2 separate regions of the Homo sapiens genome follow, and region 2 is linked to region 1. The links come from fine-mapping of genetic effects on gene expression. Tissue or cell type: anterior cingulate cortex. Region 1 holds a variant in brackets; the other region holds the start of a gene. All regions are shown on one strand. Distances are from middle to middle.

Evidence for each region. PIP is the estimated chance that this variant, and not a neighbour inherited with it, causes the effect.
Region 2: ZFP90 starts here. The variant in region 1 is fine-mapped to the expression of ZFP90 in anterior cingulate cortex (GTEx, PIP 0.97).

Annotation. Positions count from the first base shown.
Region 1 is chr16:68,593,254-68,601,356 of GRCh38, reverse strand. No RefSeq gene overlaps it. Among named protein-coding and RNA genes, the nearest start is that of CDH3, 48 kb to the left of the region's middle. The variant C/T (reference allele first, on the strand shown) is at 4,495.
Region 2 is chr16:68,536,138-68,544,240 of GRCh38, reverse strand. ZFP90 (ZFP90 zinc finger protein) reads right to left here and starts at 4,950. Exons shown (of 5, transcript NM_001305203.2): 1 at 4,762-4,950; 2 at 4,416-4,483. The coding sequence starts at 4,448.

The sequences.
Region 1 (8,103 bases):
TCTATGGATTTGCTTATTCTGAACATTTCATGTAAGTAAGAATCATATAATATGTGGCCTTTTGCATTTGGCTTCTCTTTTTTTTTCTTTCTTCTTTCTTCTTTTTTTTTTTTTTTTTTTGAGATGAGGTCTTGCTGTGTTGCCCAGGTTGGTCTCAAACTCCTGGGTTCAAGCAATCCTCCCATCTCAGCCTCCTAAACTGCTGAGATTACAGCCATGACCCACCACACCCAGCTGGCTTCTTTTTCTTTTTTTTTTTTTTTTTTGAGACGGAGTCTTGCTCTGTCACCCAGGCTGGAGTGCAGTGGCCTGATCTCGGTTCACTGCAACCTCCGCCTCCTGGGTTCACGCCATTCTCCTGCCTTAGCCTCCCGAGTAGCCCGGACTACAGGCGCCTGCCACCACACCCTGCTAACTTTGTATTTTTAGTAGAGACAGGGTTTCACTGTGTTAGCCAGGATGGTCTCGATCGCCTGACCTCGTGATCCGCCCTCCTCGGCCTCCCAAAGTGCTGGGATTACAGGCGGGAGCCACCACGCCCAGCCTTGGCTTCTTTTTCTTAATGTTTCCAAGGTTCATCCATGTCGTAGCATGGATCAGTGCTTCATTACTTTTTATGGCCAAACAATATTCCATTGTATAGATCTAGATGTTTTATTAATATTTGTCCATTCATTAGTTGAGGGGCATATGGGTTGTTTCGACTTTTTGGCTGTTATGAATAATGTTGCTGTGAACACTTGTGTACAAGTTTCTGTGTGGACACGTGCTTCATTTCTCTTGGGTAGATACCTAGGTGTGGAATTGCTGGGTTGTACGGTATCCTTAACCATGTGGAGAACTGCCAGAATGATTTCCAAAGCATCTACACCATTTTGTATTCCCATAAGCAGTGTATGCAGTTCTCTTCAGAACACCTCTTCTTTTTTTTTTTTTTTTTTTTGAGACAGAGTCTCACTGTGTACCCAGGCTGGAGTGCAATGGCTCAATCATAGCTCGCTGCAGCCTCAGTCTCCTGGGCTCAAATGATCTCCCACCTCAGCCTCCCCAGTAGCTGGGACCACAGGTAGGAGCCACCACACCCAGCTAATTTTTTGATTTTTTGTAAAGATGAGGTCTTACTATGTTACCCAGGCTGGTCTTGAACTCCGGGCTCAAGGGCTACTCCCACCTTGGCCTCCCAAAGTGTTAGGATTACAGGTGTGAGTCACCACGCTTAGCTTAGGACACTTTTATAAACATAAACTCACAACAATAATCTTCATAACAACCCCAGAGATAGGCATCATTGCTGTAATCTTTCAGACGAGGACAATGATGGCAGAGAGGAGATGACACCAGCTATAAGGGTCGGGGCTTCAAGTCTGAGACTGCCTCATTTCCTGTGGGAAGCCTGACTTTTGAGCCAAAACAATAGGCTTTCAGGCTTTGAGAGGTGATGGAACAATGGGCAGAGAGGAGGAATCTGCAGGTCAAAGTCTTGGTGTGGAGATGGAAGCTCCTAGAGCATCAAAGCCACTTCTGTTTTTGTTTTATTGGGCAACAGTGGAGCCAGGTTCTGACTAATTAATGATAATCAAAGTGCTCTGACAAGAAGGAGAGTTCTGCAAATGCCAGCCATGAATTATTCATGGCCAGGTCTTCTTAACTGGGAGAGAGGAGGCTGCCTGGGAGTAGAAGAAAGCTAAGCTCTCACTTACCCTCAAGTTCGCATGAGCCTGAGCAGCCCCCACAGGACTCAGTTTCTCCATGCAGAAAATGGGGCCAGATGTGAGCTCTCATTTCTTCGTTTTTTTTTTTGTTTGTTTGTTTTTAATTTTTTTGAGATAGGGTCTTGCTCTAATGCCCAGGCTGGAGTGCAGTGGCACAGTCTCAGCTCATTGCAACCTTTGCCTCCCAGGCTCAACCTATCCTCCTGCCTCAGCCTCTCCAGTGTGAGGTGTGAGCTGGGACTACAGGTGCACACTATCATGCCCGGCTAATTTTTTTTTTTTTTTTTTTTTTTTTTTTTTTGTGTAGAGATGGGGTTTTGCTATGTTCCCCAGGCTGGTTTCCAACTCCAGCTCAAGCAGTTCACCCGCTTTGGCCTCCCAAAGTGCTGGGATTACAGGCATGAGTCACCATGCCTGGCCAGCTATCATTTCTCTCTCTTTTTTTTTTGAGACAGAGTCTCACTCTGTCGCCCAGGCTGGAGTGCAGTGGTGTGATCTCAGCTCACTGCAACCTCCGCCTCCTGGGTTCAAGCGATTCTCCTCCCTCAGCCTCCCGAGTAGCTGGGACTACAGGAGCGCACCACCACACCAGGCTAATTTTTGTATTTTTAGTAGAGACAGGGTTTCACCACATTGGCCAGGCTGGTCTCGAACTCCTGACCTCAAGTGATCCGCCCTCTTCGGCCTCCCAAAGTGCTGGGATTATAGGCGTGAGCCACTGCGCCTGGCCTCATTTCTTTATACTATCAGACCAGGACCTGCAGAGAAGGGCTGGTGACCTGGGTCCTGCTACCACTCAACTGGAGGCAGTGCACACCCAAGCTGCCCCTAGCAAGCGGCAAACAAAAACTAATAATACCAAAACATAGTTCAGGGGTTGGTAAGCTTTTTCTTTTCTTTTCTTTTCTTTTTTTTGAGATGTTGTCTTGCTCTGTCACCCAGGCTGGAGTGCAGTGGTGTGATTTCAGGTCACTGCAACCTCCCCATTCTGGGTTCAAGCGATTCTCCTGCCTCAGCCTCCCGAGTAGCTGGGATTATAGGCACGTGCCACCATGCCTGGCTAATTTTTGTATTTTTAGTAGAGATGGGGTTTCACCATGTTGGCCAGGCTGGTCTCGAACTCCTGACCTCAGGTGATCTACCCGCCTCAGCCTCCCAAAAGTGCTGGGATTACAGGTGTGAGCCACCGTGCCCGGCCTGGTAAGCCTTTTCTATCAAAGGCCAGGTAGTACATATTTTGGGCTTTGCAGGACATATGGTCTCTGTCACACTACCCAGCTCTGCCATTGTAGTGCAAAAGCGTCCATAGATAATCCATCAGCGAATGAATTCAGCCATCCAATGAAGCTTGGTGTACATTGACATTTGAATTCGATGTAATTTTCATGTGTCACAAAATATTATTCTCGTTTTTTTTTTTCCCCAACCATTTAAAAATGTAAAAACCATTTTTAGCTCCTGGAATGTGTAAAAACAAGTGTACCCTCAAAATGTTAAACATAATTACTATTCGACCCAGAATTTTCATTCCTAAATATATACCTAAAAGAAATGGCCTTGGCCGGGTGTGGTGGCTCACGCCTGTAATTCCAACACTTTGGGAGGCCGAGGCGGGCATATTACGAGGTCAGGAGATCAAGACCATCCTGGCTAACATGGTGAAACCCTGTCTCTACTAAAAATACAAAAAAAATCAGCCAGGTGTGGTGGCACGTGCCTGTAGTCCCAGCTACTCCGGAGGCTGAGGCAGGAGAATCGCTTAAACTCAGGCGGCAGAGGTTGCAGTGAGCCAAGACTGCGCCACTGCACAGCAGCCTGGGTGATAGACAGCCTGAGACAGACTCTGCCTCAAATAAAAAAAAAAAAAAGAAAGAAATGGCCAGGTGCGGTGGCTCATGCTTGTAATCCCAGCACTTTGGGAGGCCAAGCCGGGCAGATTGCCTGAGGTCAGGAGTTTAAGACCAGATATAAAGATATTTTTGGCCGGGCACGGTGGCTCATGCTTGTAATCCCAGTACTTTGGGAGGCTGAGGCGGGCGGATCACAAGGTCAGGAGATCGAGACCATCCTGGCTAACACAGTGAAACCCCGTCTCTACTAAAAATACCAAAAAAAAATTAGCTGGGCGTGGTGGCGGGCACCTGTAGTCCCAGCTACTCAGGACTCTGAGGCAGGAGAATGGTGTGAACCCGGAAGGTGGAGGTTGCAGTGAGCTGAGATCACGCCACTGCACTCCAGCCTGGGTGACAGAGCGAGACTCCGTCTCAAAAAAAAAAAAAAAAAAAGATTCTTTCTGGTTTTTCTGCAATTAATTTTAAGAGATCTACCCCAGTCACCTTCACAGTAGCGGCTCTGGATATATGAAAGTTGGGGGAAGCTGTGGAGGGGGACGCTATGAGAAAAGAGTCAGGAATGGGATGGGGTTTTGCTCACCTCAAGCCCTACTCCAGCCCCAAACCCCTCTCCTTTCATTCTCAAAGATATTAAGGAAATCAAGGTCAAATTGCCAGCTGTGTGGCCTTGGATTGATTCCTCACCCTGTGTGAGCCCTTTCCCATATATGTCATGTGGACTAAATTTCTGGAAAAGGCTTCCAGTCCTTTTCCTCCTTTCCTTCCTAGCACTGCTAAGCAAGACACAGGGAGTGACAGCTTTGCTTAGCAGTGCTGGGAAGGAAGGCAGAGAAAAGGAAGGTGGGGAGCATGGGGCGAGGAGGAGAAAGCTGTCATTGGAATGGCTGGTGGGTGTGGCAGAGGCAGCAGGTGGGACAGGTAGAGGGATT[C/T]GTCCCCTCCTGTCATTTTCTCTGCCCTGGAGCTTTGAGGCCATGATTACCCAATCTCTGGATGTAACTCTTAGAAAGGCTGTGCTGGGCTGAGCACTGGACATGGAGTCCAAAGACCTGCATTCTGCTCACACCTCACATTGGTCACCTGTGACCTTGCGCAAATTAGTTCTTCCTTTGAGCCTTGTCTTGCTCAGCTATGTAAGGAGTTAATGCTTGGCTGGTTGCAACAGTTCTAGGAAAGGTGCTTTGAAAAAGGCTAAGCACCTACAGTGCTGTCAGTGATGAACAAACTGTGGCACACCTTCCCTTGTTTTTTAAAATGTCTATCGAGATGTAATTCACATACCACACGATTCGCCCATTTTAAATGTGTGCTTCAGCAGGTTTTAGTCTATTCACAGAGTTGCACAACCATGATCACAATCAGTTTTAGAACATTTTCATCATCCCAAGAAGAAATCTGTACTCTTGCCAGGAGCAATGGCTCCCGCCTGTAGTCTCAGCGATGAGGGAGGATTGCTTAAGTCTGGGAGTTCAAGACCAGCGTAGGCAACATTAAAAACAAGAAAACCCAAAAAGAACCTTAGCTGGGTGTGGTGACACAAACCTGTAGTCCCAGCTATTCATGAGGCTGAGGCAGGACGATCGCTTGAGCCCGGGAGTTTGAAGCTGCAGTGAGCCATGATCCTACCCCTGTACTCTAACTTGGGCGACAGAGCAAGACGACTCAAAAAAACAAACAAAAAAACTAAAACGAAAAACAAAACCATACTCTTTATTTTATTTTTTAGAGATGGAGTCTAATTTTGTTGCCTAGATTGGTCTTCAACTCCTGAATTCAAGGGATCCTCTGCCTCAGCCTCCCAAAATGCTGCAATTTCAGGTGTGAGCTGCGCCCGGCCAAAACCCTACTCAGGAGCTCTCACCCTCCAGTCTTCTCAGGCCCCGGAGCCCCAGGCAAGTACTCATCTACTTTCTATCTCTATAGATGTGCTTATTCTGGACATTTCATAGAAATGAAATCATATAATGTGTTGTCTTTTGACTGACTTTTTTCATTTAGGATAATGCTTGCAAGTCTTGTCTATTTTGTAGCATATATAAACATTTAATTTTTTTTATAGTTGAATATGCCACATTTTATGTATCCATTCATCAGTTGATAGACATCTGTGGGCTTTTTTCCCTATTTTGGGGCTACTATGAATAGTGCTGCTATGAAGTTTTTGTGTAGACACGTTTTCATTTCTTTCTTTCTTTTTTTTTTTTTTTTGAGACAGAGTTTTGCTCTGTCGCTAGGCTGGAGTGCAATGGTGCCATATCAGCTCACTGCAACCTCTGGCTCCTGGGTTCAAGCGATTCTCCTGCCTCAGCCTCCCCAGTAGCTGGGACTACAGGCATGCGCCACCATGCCCGGCTAATTTTTTATATTTTAGTAGAGATGGGGTTTCACCATGTTGGCCAAGATGGTCTCGATCTCCTGACCTCGTGATCCACCCGTCTCGGCCTCCCAAAGTGCTGGGATTACAGGCATGAGCCGCCACGTCCAGCTTTTTTTTTTCTTTTGAGACAGAGTCTCACTCCGTCACCCAAGCTGGAGTGCAGTGGTGCGATCTTGGCTCACTGCAACCTCCACCTCCCTGGTTCAAGTGATTATCCTGTCTCAGCCTCCCAAGTAGCTGGGATTACAGGTGCATGCCACCACATCCAGTTAATTTTTGTATTTTTAGTAGAGACGGGGTTTCACCGAGTTGGCCCAGCTGGTCTTGAACTCAAGCGATTTGCCCGCCTCGGCCTCCCAAAGTGCTGGGATTATAGGAAATGAGCCACCGCACCCAGCCTATTTTATTTATTTATTTTATTAGAGGTAGGGTTTTGCCATATTGCCCAGGCTGTTCTCAGACTCCTGGGCACAAGTGATCTGCCTGCCTTGGTTTCCCAAAGAGTTGGGATTACAGGCATGCGCCACTGAGTGGGGCCATTCAGTTTTATTTTTAACTGACAAATAATAATTGTGTATATCTGTGGGGTATGAAATGATGTTTCAGTACCTGTATACATTATGGAATGATCAAATCAGGCTAATTAACATACTTATCACCTCATATACTTACTGTTTCTTTGCGATGAGAACATTTAAGATCTGTTCTTTTAGCTTTTTTGAAATATATATTATTATTAACTATCACCATGCTGTATACTAGATCACTAGAACCTGGTTGGAGAAAAATCAAAAGGATAGCTTGTGACCATGAAAATTACATGAATTCAAATTTTAACTTGAAATATCTACTATCTAGCCCTTTATAGTAAAACTCTGATGACTTCTGAACTAAACAAACACAGAGAAACTTGGATAGAATCTATAAGCGGAATGAAAAAAGCAAATAGAACAGTGATCTGTTGCTGCATAACAAATGATCCCAAAAGGTAATGGCTTAAAAACAGACATTTATTATCTCACATAGTTTCTATGGATAAAAAATTTGCAAGTGGCTTGACTGAGTGGTTTTGGCTTGGGGTCTCTGACAAGGTTATGGTTAAGATGTTGCTGGAGGCCGGGCATGGTGGCTTATGCCTGTAATCCCAGCACTTTGGGAGGCCGAGGCAGGTGGATCACGAGGTCAGGAGATCGAGACCATCCTGGCTAACAGGATGAAACCCTGTCTCTACTAAAAATACAAAAAAATTAGCCGGGCATGGTGGCGGGTGCCTGTAGTCCCAGCTACTCAGGAGGCTGAGGCAGGAGAATGGTGTGAACCCGGGAGGCGGAGCTTGCAGTGAGCGGAGATCGTGCCACTGCACTCCAGCCTGGGCGACAGAGCGAGACTCCATCTCAAACAAAAAAAAAAGATGTTGCTGGGACTGCAGTCATCTGAAGGCTTTACTGGGGCTGCACAATCACTTTCAAGATGGTTCACTTACATGGCTGGCAAGTTGGTGCTAGCTGTTTGCAGAAGGCCTCAATCCTGTTATACCTCTTCATAGGGCTACTTGAGTGTTCTCATAACATGACAGTTGAAGGTCGGGTGCCTCAACTCGTTGTTTTAATTTACAGTTCCCCCTGGGCATGGTGTCTCACACCTGTAATCCCAGCATTTTGGCAGTCCAAAGCAGGCGGGTCACCTGAGGTCAGGGGTTCAAGACCAGCCTGGCCAACATGGCGAAACCCCGTCTCTACTAAAAATACAAAAAAAATTAGCTGGGCATAGTGGCACACACCTGTAATCCCAGCTACTTGGGTGGCTGAGGCAGGAGAATTTCTTGAACCCAGGAGGCGGAGGTTGCAGTGAGCCGAGATCATGCCACTGCACTCCAGCCTGGGCGACAAAGTGAGACTTCATCTCAAAAAAAAAAAAGAAAGAAAAAAGAAAAAGAAAATGCTCAATTATTACCCAAATGGCAGTGCTGGTGGATTGCTCACTCCTCCCGCCAGCCTTCTGCCCTCTCTGGAGACAAACTGTGAATGCCCCCAGTTCTAGACTGTTGGTGGGAGAATCAAAACTCTCTTTAAAAATATTAATATATCCTATGACTCTAGGTCTTGTCACTTCTTTCACTTAGCTCTCTTAACCCTCATCAGCTCTGCCAGGTAGGAACTGAACT
Region 2 (8,103 bases), 57 kb after region 1:
TGCTCTGGTGGCTTCAACTTTAAGAATGGCAAATGCCTTTTTTGTTTCCTAACTAAAAATGTAGTACACATGTTATGAAAAAGAGGCCAGCCAGTGTGGTGGCTCACACCTGTAATCCCAGCATTTTGGGAGGCCAAGGTGGGTGGATCACTTGAGGTCAGGAGTTCAAGACCAGTCTGGCCAACATAGTGAAACCCCATCTCTAGTAAAAATACAAAAAATTAGCCGGGCGTGGTGGTGCACACCTGTAATCCCAGCTACTTGGGAGGCTGAGGCAGGAGAATTGCTTGAACCTGGGAGGCAGAGGTTGCAGCGAGACAACATTGCACACTGCACACTGATAGAGCAAGACTCTACCTCGAAAAAAAAAAAAAAAAGGGCAGGCCAGACACAGTGGCTCACGCCTATAATCCCAGCACTTTGGGAGGCTGAGACAGGCAGATCATGAGGTCAGGAGATCGAGACCATCCTGGTCAACATGGTGAAACCCTGTCTGTACCAAAAATACAAAAATTAGCTGGGCGTGGTGACACATGCCTGTAATCCCAGCTACTCGGGAGACTGAGGCAGGAAAATAGCTTGAATCAGGGAGGCAGAGGTTGCGGTGAGCCAAGATCACGCCACTGCACTCTAGCCTGGCGACAGAGCAAGACTCTGTCTCAAAAAAAAAAAAAGAAAAAAAGGCAAATAAGGATGTATAATGTTTACATAGACATTGCTACTAACAATCCTATAAATACACAGCTATATCTACGTAAACATTCTAAATGGGTATCCCGGCTCCTCCATCTCTGCTCCTAGTCCCATCCCGCTTCAGGTGGAGCCAGTTCAGGAATTTGTTAACTATGTTCAGGGGAAAGGTCCCACTCATCAAAACACCTCTCTAAAGGAACTATTATCAAATATAATATCAAACTTTTTATCCTAGGATTCATCATTCATGGCAATCTTTTAAAAAATCTATGAAGTTGTATTAGTTCCCTGCCCCAAATCACCAGCTCAAGCTACACTGGCCTCTTTGCTGCTCCTTGAATACACCAGACATACATCTTGCCGCTAGGCTGTTCCCTCTGCCCAGAGCACTCTTCCCCTACACATCTACTCCCTCATCGCCTTCAAGTCTGCTCAGGTGTCACCATCTCAATAAGGATAAGGCTTACCCTGACCACATCATTTTAAATTGCACCCCGACTACAAACCTCCCACCTCCCCACTCAGACCCCCTTACCTTTCTCTACCTTTTTTCCCTCTTGAGATACTACTGCCTTCTAGGATACCATACAATTTATTTATTTACTGAATTCTTCTGTCTGTCCTCTCTAGAATGTAAGCTCCTTGAGAGCAGGGTCCTAATTTTGTTCACTGAAGTTATCCCAACTGCCTAGAAAAGTGCCTGACACATCATAGGGCTCAATGACTACCTGGTGAATGAGTAGATGAATGAATGATGAATGAACGAGTTACAAGGCCAAAAAGAACAAGTCCAAACTCCTTCTATTCTCCTCTACCCACTGCCAGCAGCCCACAGCTGGTGTTACAAAGAAAATGCTTTAATGAACATGCACCGCCATCTTCTTGCCTCCCAACTCCCGATTCACCAAATCAATCAGCTCTACCCTCTCCCTTTTGTTTTTTGGGGTTGGTTTTTTTGAGATGGAGTCTCACTCTGTCACCCAGGCTGGAGTGCAGTGGCAGGATCTCGGTTCACTGCAACCTCCACCTCCCAGGTTCAAGCGATTCTCCTGCCTCAGCCTCCCTAGTAGCTGGGACTACAGGCGCCCGTCACCATGGCTAGCTAATTTTTGTATTTTTAGTGGAAACAGGGTTTCACCATGTTGGCCAGGCTGGTCTCGAACTCCTGACCTCAAGTGATCCGCTTGCCTCCGCCTCCCAAAGTGCTGGGATTACAGTCCCCTTTTGTTTTCACCTGCTTAGACTCTGCTCCTATTCAAAGGTGAAAACTCCACTGACTTCTTCCCACCGGCAGAATGTCCTGGTCCCTCTCAACTCCAAGCAGCCTCTGGACCTCCGCAACAACACTTGACACCAGCTCTCTTGCGCTCTACTTCTGCAGGAGACTGTCTGCTCCCACTAAATTAACTTTACAGTTAAGCAGTCACAGGACTCATTACTAATCTTTGCATTCCCCTGAGGGTCATGCTCAGGGAACCACTGCTAAAGGGAAATTTCTGCCTGAAAAGCCCCGTTTAGGACCAGTGTTCTGTTCTGTCCTTCATCCCTGGTTATCTGCAGCCTGAGTTAGATAACCCACATGGACATCATCAGGCCATTCAATGAGAATGCAACTGAGCCAGGGCGTTCAGGGAACATAGCTTGAAAAGTCAAGTTTACAGTGGTCCTTAAAATTCACTGCTCAGAACATGAATCCACTTTCACCACTAAAAAGGTATCCTCCCACTATGGAAAAGACCAGAGTCCCTGATGAGGTGTTAAGTCATCTAATTCTCACAAGCCTATGGAGGATACTTTGCATGTAAAGGGGATAACGATCATGATGTGCTCTGGCTCTCCTCAAACCAAGTAACTGTCTTGTTTTAGTATTGGCAGGTGTCTTACTCCTTAAGGCTCATCCCTGTAAAAACAGAAACATATAATAAGAAGTATATATATATATAAAAACGCAGGCCGGGCCCGGTGGCTCACGCCTGTAATCCCAGAACTTTGGGAGGTCAGGAGATCGAGACCATCCTGGCCAACATGGTGAAACCCCATCTTTACTAAAAATACAAAAATTAGCTGGGCATGGTGGCACATGCCCAGCTGTGGTGGCTCACACCTGTAATCCCAACACTTTGGGAGGCTGAAGCGAGCACATCACTTGAGCTTAGGAATTCAAATCCAGCCTGGAGAAACCCCATCTTTACAAAAAAAAACAAAAATTAGGCCAGGCGTGGTGGCTCACATCTGTAATCCCAGCACCTTGGGAGGCCAACGTGGGCGGATCAATTGACGTCAGGAGTTCGAGACCAGACTGGCCAACATGGTAAAACCCTGACTCTACTAAAATACAAAAAAATTAGCCGGGTGTGGTGGTGTACACCTGTTAATCCCAGCTACTAGGGAGGTTGAGGCAGGAGAATCACTTGAACCCAGGAGGTGGAGGTTGCAGTGAGCCGAGATCATGCCACTACACTTCAGCCTGGGTGACAGAATGAGACTGTCTCAAAAAATAAAATAAACCAAAAAATACAAAAATTAGCCGGGCATGGTGGCGTGCACCATGGCAGAGGTTGCAGTGAGCCAAGATCATGTCACTGTACTCCAGACTGGGTGACAAGAGACCCTGTTTCAAAAAAAAAAAAAAAAAAGGCATGATGTATTGTATGCTTAATTCACTATAAACTGCTCTTTTAAAGGACATTACTAAGTTGGTGTTTTTATCTTTTAAATTTTTTTTTTTTTTTTTTTTTTGCAGAGACGGAGTCTCACTATGTTGCCCAGGCTGGTCTCAAATTCCTGGGCTTAAACGATCCTATTGCCTCAGCTTCCCAAAGTGCTGGACTTACAGGTGTGACCCACTGTACCTGGCAACTTGGTATTTTTATTTGAATTGATCTTGATGTCTCACACACCTAGCAACTACAATCTGTCATTTTCCCTTAATTCTAAAGAGAATGTAGATTCAAAGATACAGATACCATCTGGATCTTGATGTATTTTCACCAATATGTAAATCAATGGATAACCTTAGAGTTGTGACGCTTCTAGAAAATGCCCCCTCTGCCACAAGAATAAATGGGTTCACGAATCAGCCTCACATTAAGGTGAAGGCTGGACTTCTGGCGGTGGGGAGTGAGTTGCTCTATTACATTTTTGTTAAAGCAGAAAAGGACAGACACAAAAAGCTCTGGGAGAATCAGCCCTGGTTTTATTTTTGGTTGTTTTTTATTTTGTTTTGTTTTTGCCTCCTTGCCCAAGAAAGCCCATCTCCAGCCTCTTCCTAGACATGTTCTAACCAGGCTTCTACGGCCCCTTACGGACTCTCTATGGGCCCTGGGTCAGAAGCTGGGGCTCCTCTCTCCACACTTGCCGACAGTCACTTCCTCCTCTACAGTGTTCCATCCTGTGACCCCACTCTCTCCATTTCTTATTGACAAGAGTTCAAAAAACTGGCGTGGCATTCAGGACTCTCAAAACTGACACTTCCCAACGCATCCAATCTCAACTCCTCCCACAAGATCGCACCACACTGGCCCTCTCTACCCCACAGAGCAGCCTCCCCTTTGGGAATCCAGCTCCCCAAAGCCTGGGGTTTTCCATGGCCAGGAGGCTCCGATCGAGCCAAGCAAGTAAGGGAGTCGCCAGGCAGAGAACAATGACTGCTCCAAACACCCTTGGGAGATGGGATGGATAGATGGATGGGATGCCCAGGAGGTTAGGAACGCGTTGCTCACCTGGGGCGCGGCGGTCGGAGGCCTCGGGGCCATTCCTGCCTCGCCAGGGCCCGGCTCCGGGGCAGGAGCTGGGGAGAAAGGACAGGGCCCACTCACCCCGCTGCAACACCGACCCCACCCCGCCCCGCCCCGCCCCACCTCCGCCCCTAAACCACATCTCCAGGGGAGATGGTGGCGAGGACCGTGGAACCAGCCCGGGCCTGCCGCTCCCCATCCCCGAAATGAAAGGCTCAGCGGCCTCCCGGACACCCCCCTCCGGCCACGCCCAGTCCCCTTCGCAGGGTGGTGGGCGAGGCCCGGCTGACACCCGCCAAACCCAGGAGGGGTCCCGCCCAGACCCGCGCACTCAGAATCACCGCCTCTGGGGGGCTCCGGATTTCGCGACCTCCGGCCCACCCAGAGCCTCGGGCAGCTCCTCCCGCCCCCGCCGAAGCCTCGGTTATCTCCAATTCTGATCTGCGGAGGGGCTGCCCAAAGGGGCCTCAGCCGCACCGGGGTCGGACAATGGCCGCAGCGGTGGGGCAGAACTGGAAGTGCGCCTGCGCACTCGGAGCCTCGCTCCTGCAACCCCGGGTCCACGCCGGGCGCGCGAACTACACTTCCCAGAGGCCCGCGCGCGCAGGCCCCGCCTAGGCGGCTTCCGAAGGCGCGTTAGGGACCCTTGCGAGGGCCGAGGGAGGCGGCCAGTGTGGCTCGAGTGTGCGTGTCCCTGTATTCCAGTCACTGTCCGCCTCCTCTTTGCAAGGGGCTTGTTGCTAGCTGGGGAATCGGCCGGGAAAGACCCTGGTTTCGGGGAGCAATCGTACGCCCCTTTCGACGAGGCTGACGATAAAAACGCAAACATGTCAACAAGATAATGTCAGGTCCTGACTTCAGCGGTAAGAGTGACACAGGAAGGGAGTGAGACAGCGTCAGAGGGTGGGGCATTTACATCTTCTTCAAAAGGCAATTTTCCATTTCTCATTTTAGAGAAAAAAGAAACTTCGGACAAATCCGTGGCCTCCTGAGCAATGTGCAAAGGCAGATCTACTGCCGTGTTATTTCATTACTTCGTATCCCCTTACGCAGGATTTTGTTTGGGACAAGCAAACAATGATGGAAATTTTCTTTTTTTTTTTTGAGACACAGTTTCGCTCTTGTTGCCTAGGTTGGAGTGCAATGGCGCGATTTTGGCTCACCGCAGCCTCCGCCTCCTGGGTTCAAGCGATTCTCCCGCCTCAGCCTCCCGAGTAGCTGGGATTACAGGCATGCGATGCGTCACCAGGCCCGTCTAATTTTGTATATTTAGTAGAGACAGGTTTTCTCCATGTTGGTCATGCTGGTCTCGAACTCGCCTCGGCCTCCCAAAGTGCTGGGATTACAGGCATGGGCAACCGCGCCCGGCCCGATGGAAATTTTCAACACAAAGATAGGTCAACTTTTAGATACAGCTATTACGTTTATGTAATTATGTCTTATATATCACAGACATTCAGGCTACATTTCCTAGATTTCAGCTTGATTTCTTAACATTAGAGCATTGCATACCAACATGGTAGAAAATGACTGCAACGAAATGTTCCTGATGTCACACTGCTTTATCAAAAATATGAACATTCAAAAATAAATGCTTTATGCCGGGTGCGGTGGCTCAAGCCTGTGATCCCAGCACTTTGGGAGGCTGAGGCTGGCGGATCACCTGAGGTCAGGAGTTCGAGACCAGCCTGACCAACATGGAGATAGCTCGTCTCTACTAAAAATACAAAATTAGCCAGGCTTGGTGGCGCATGCCTGTAATCCCAGCTACTCAGAAAGCTGAGGCAGGAGAATCGCTTGAATCTGGGAGGCAGAGGTTGTGGTGAGCCGAGATTGCACCATTGCACTCCAACCTGGGCAACAACAGCAAAACTCCATCTCAAAAAAAACAAAACAAAAAAGGGAGAAAATTTCCATCACTGTTGGCTTGTCCCAAACACAAAATCCTGCGCAAGGGGCTAACAAGTAATGAAATAACACGTCAATAGCACAGGGAGGCTGAGGAGGGAGGAGCCCAGGAATTAAAAGACCAGCTTGGGCAACATGGCAAAACCCTGTCTCTACAAAAAATACAAACATTAACTGGTTGCAATAGTGTGCGCCTGTGGTCCCAGCTACTTGGGAGGCTGAGGTGGGAAGATCGTTTGAACCCGGGAAGCAGAGGTTGTGGTGGGCTGTGATTTCACCACAGCACTCCGACCTGGGCGACAAAGCGAGACTGTCTCAAAAAATATATATAAAAATTAATGAATGCTTTCTATCACTGCTTTGTGAATATAGTGGTCTGGAATTAGCAGAATGCATAATTCACAAGTATGAATTAGAGTGGACCGGGAGGCCTCTCTGAGGCAAGTGACTTAGTAGCTGCAACTTAAGGCAACTGCAGGCTGGGCATGGTGGCTCACGCCTGTAATCCCAGCACTTTGGGAGGCTGAGGGGGGCAGATCACTTGAGGTCAGGAGTTCGAGACCAGCCTGGCCAACATAGTAAAACCCCATCTCTACTAAACATACAAAAATTAGCAGGGTGTGGTGGCGTGCGCCTGTACTCACAGCTACTTGGGAGGCTGTAGCAGGGGAATCGCTTGAACCTGGGAGGTGGGGGTTGCAGTGAGCCAAGATTGCACCACTGCACTCCAACCTGGGTGAGAGATGGAGACTCTGTCTCAAAAAAAAAAAAGCCCAACAACAACAAAACAACTGCAGGTGCATAAGGGGAAAAGAATTCCAGGCTGAAGAAACTGAAGGTGCAAAAGCTGTCAGATGGGAACAAGCTTGGTGTGCTTAGGAACAGATAGATGCCTAATGTACCTTAGCAGAGTGAGGGATAAGAGAGTGAGCAGAGCAGAGGTAGGGCAGGTAGACTGGGACTTGATGGAACAAGGCTTTGGAGGTTGTGATGAGGGGTGTGGATTTTGAGTGTGATGAGAGCCATTGGCTTAGTAACAGCAGTGGAGTCACTTATTACTATGAGAGAATAAGAGGAATTTTTCCTACTGTCCCAGAATTGGTAACCAGGTCTCAAGAGTTGAGGATTAAGTTCTGCATTCTAAGGAAAGATGAAAACATTTGGGGTGAGAACCTCTCAGGTCTTATCAAAGGAAGCTGGGTGCTGAATTCTGAATTTGCTGTTACTATTAACCACTGACGCAATGCCACCCCTCTTTTCCCAGGCTATATAAGAGTATGACGGGAAAGAAAAGGAAAAATCCGTACCCAGGCACAGTGGCCTATAATTCCCACACTTTGGGAGGCTGAGGAGGGAGGATCGCTTGAGCCTAGGCGTTCCAGACCATCCTGGTCAACATAGTGAGACCTTGTTTCTACAATAGTAATAATAATGCCAGGTGTGGTGGCATGCCGGTAGTCCCCAACTACTGGGGAGGCTGAGGTGGGAGAATCAGCTTGAGCTAGGGGAGGTTGAGGATGCAGTGAGCTGAGATCGTGCCACTGTACTCCAGCTGGCGTGACAGAGCAAGACCCTCTCTCAAAAGAAAGAAAAAGAATTCCTTAGACGAGTAAGCCTTCCACCTAGTGCGGAAGGCAGCGTTCACCACCGCTCCTACTTGCAAGATGAATGTGAGAAAGAGCACTCAAACATTGAGCCTACCCAGGAGAGCAGAGGTTTTAAAACCTGCACTGGTACCTCCCAGAGAAAAGGGAAAGAGAACAAC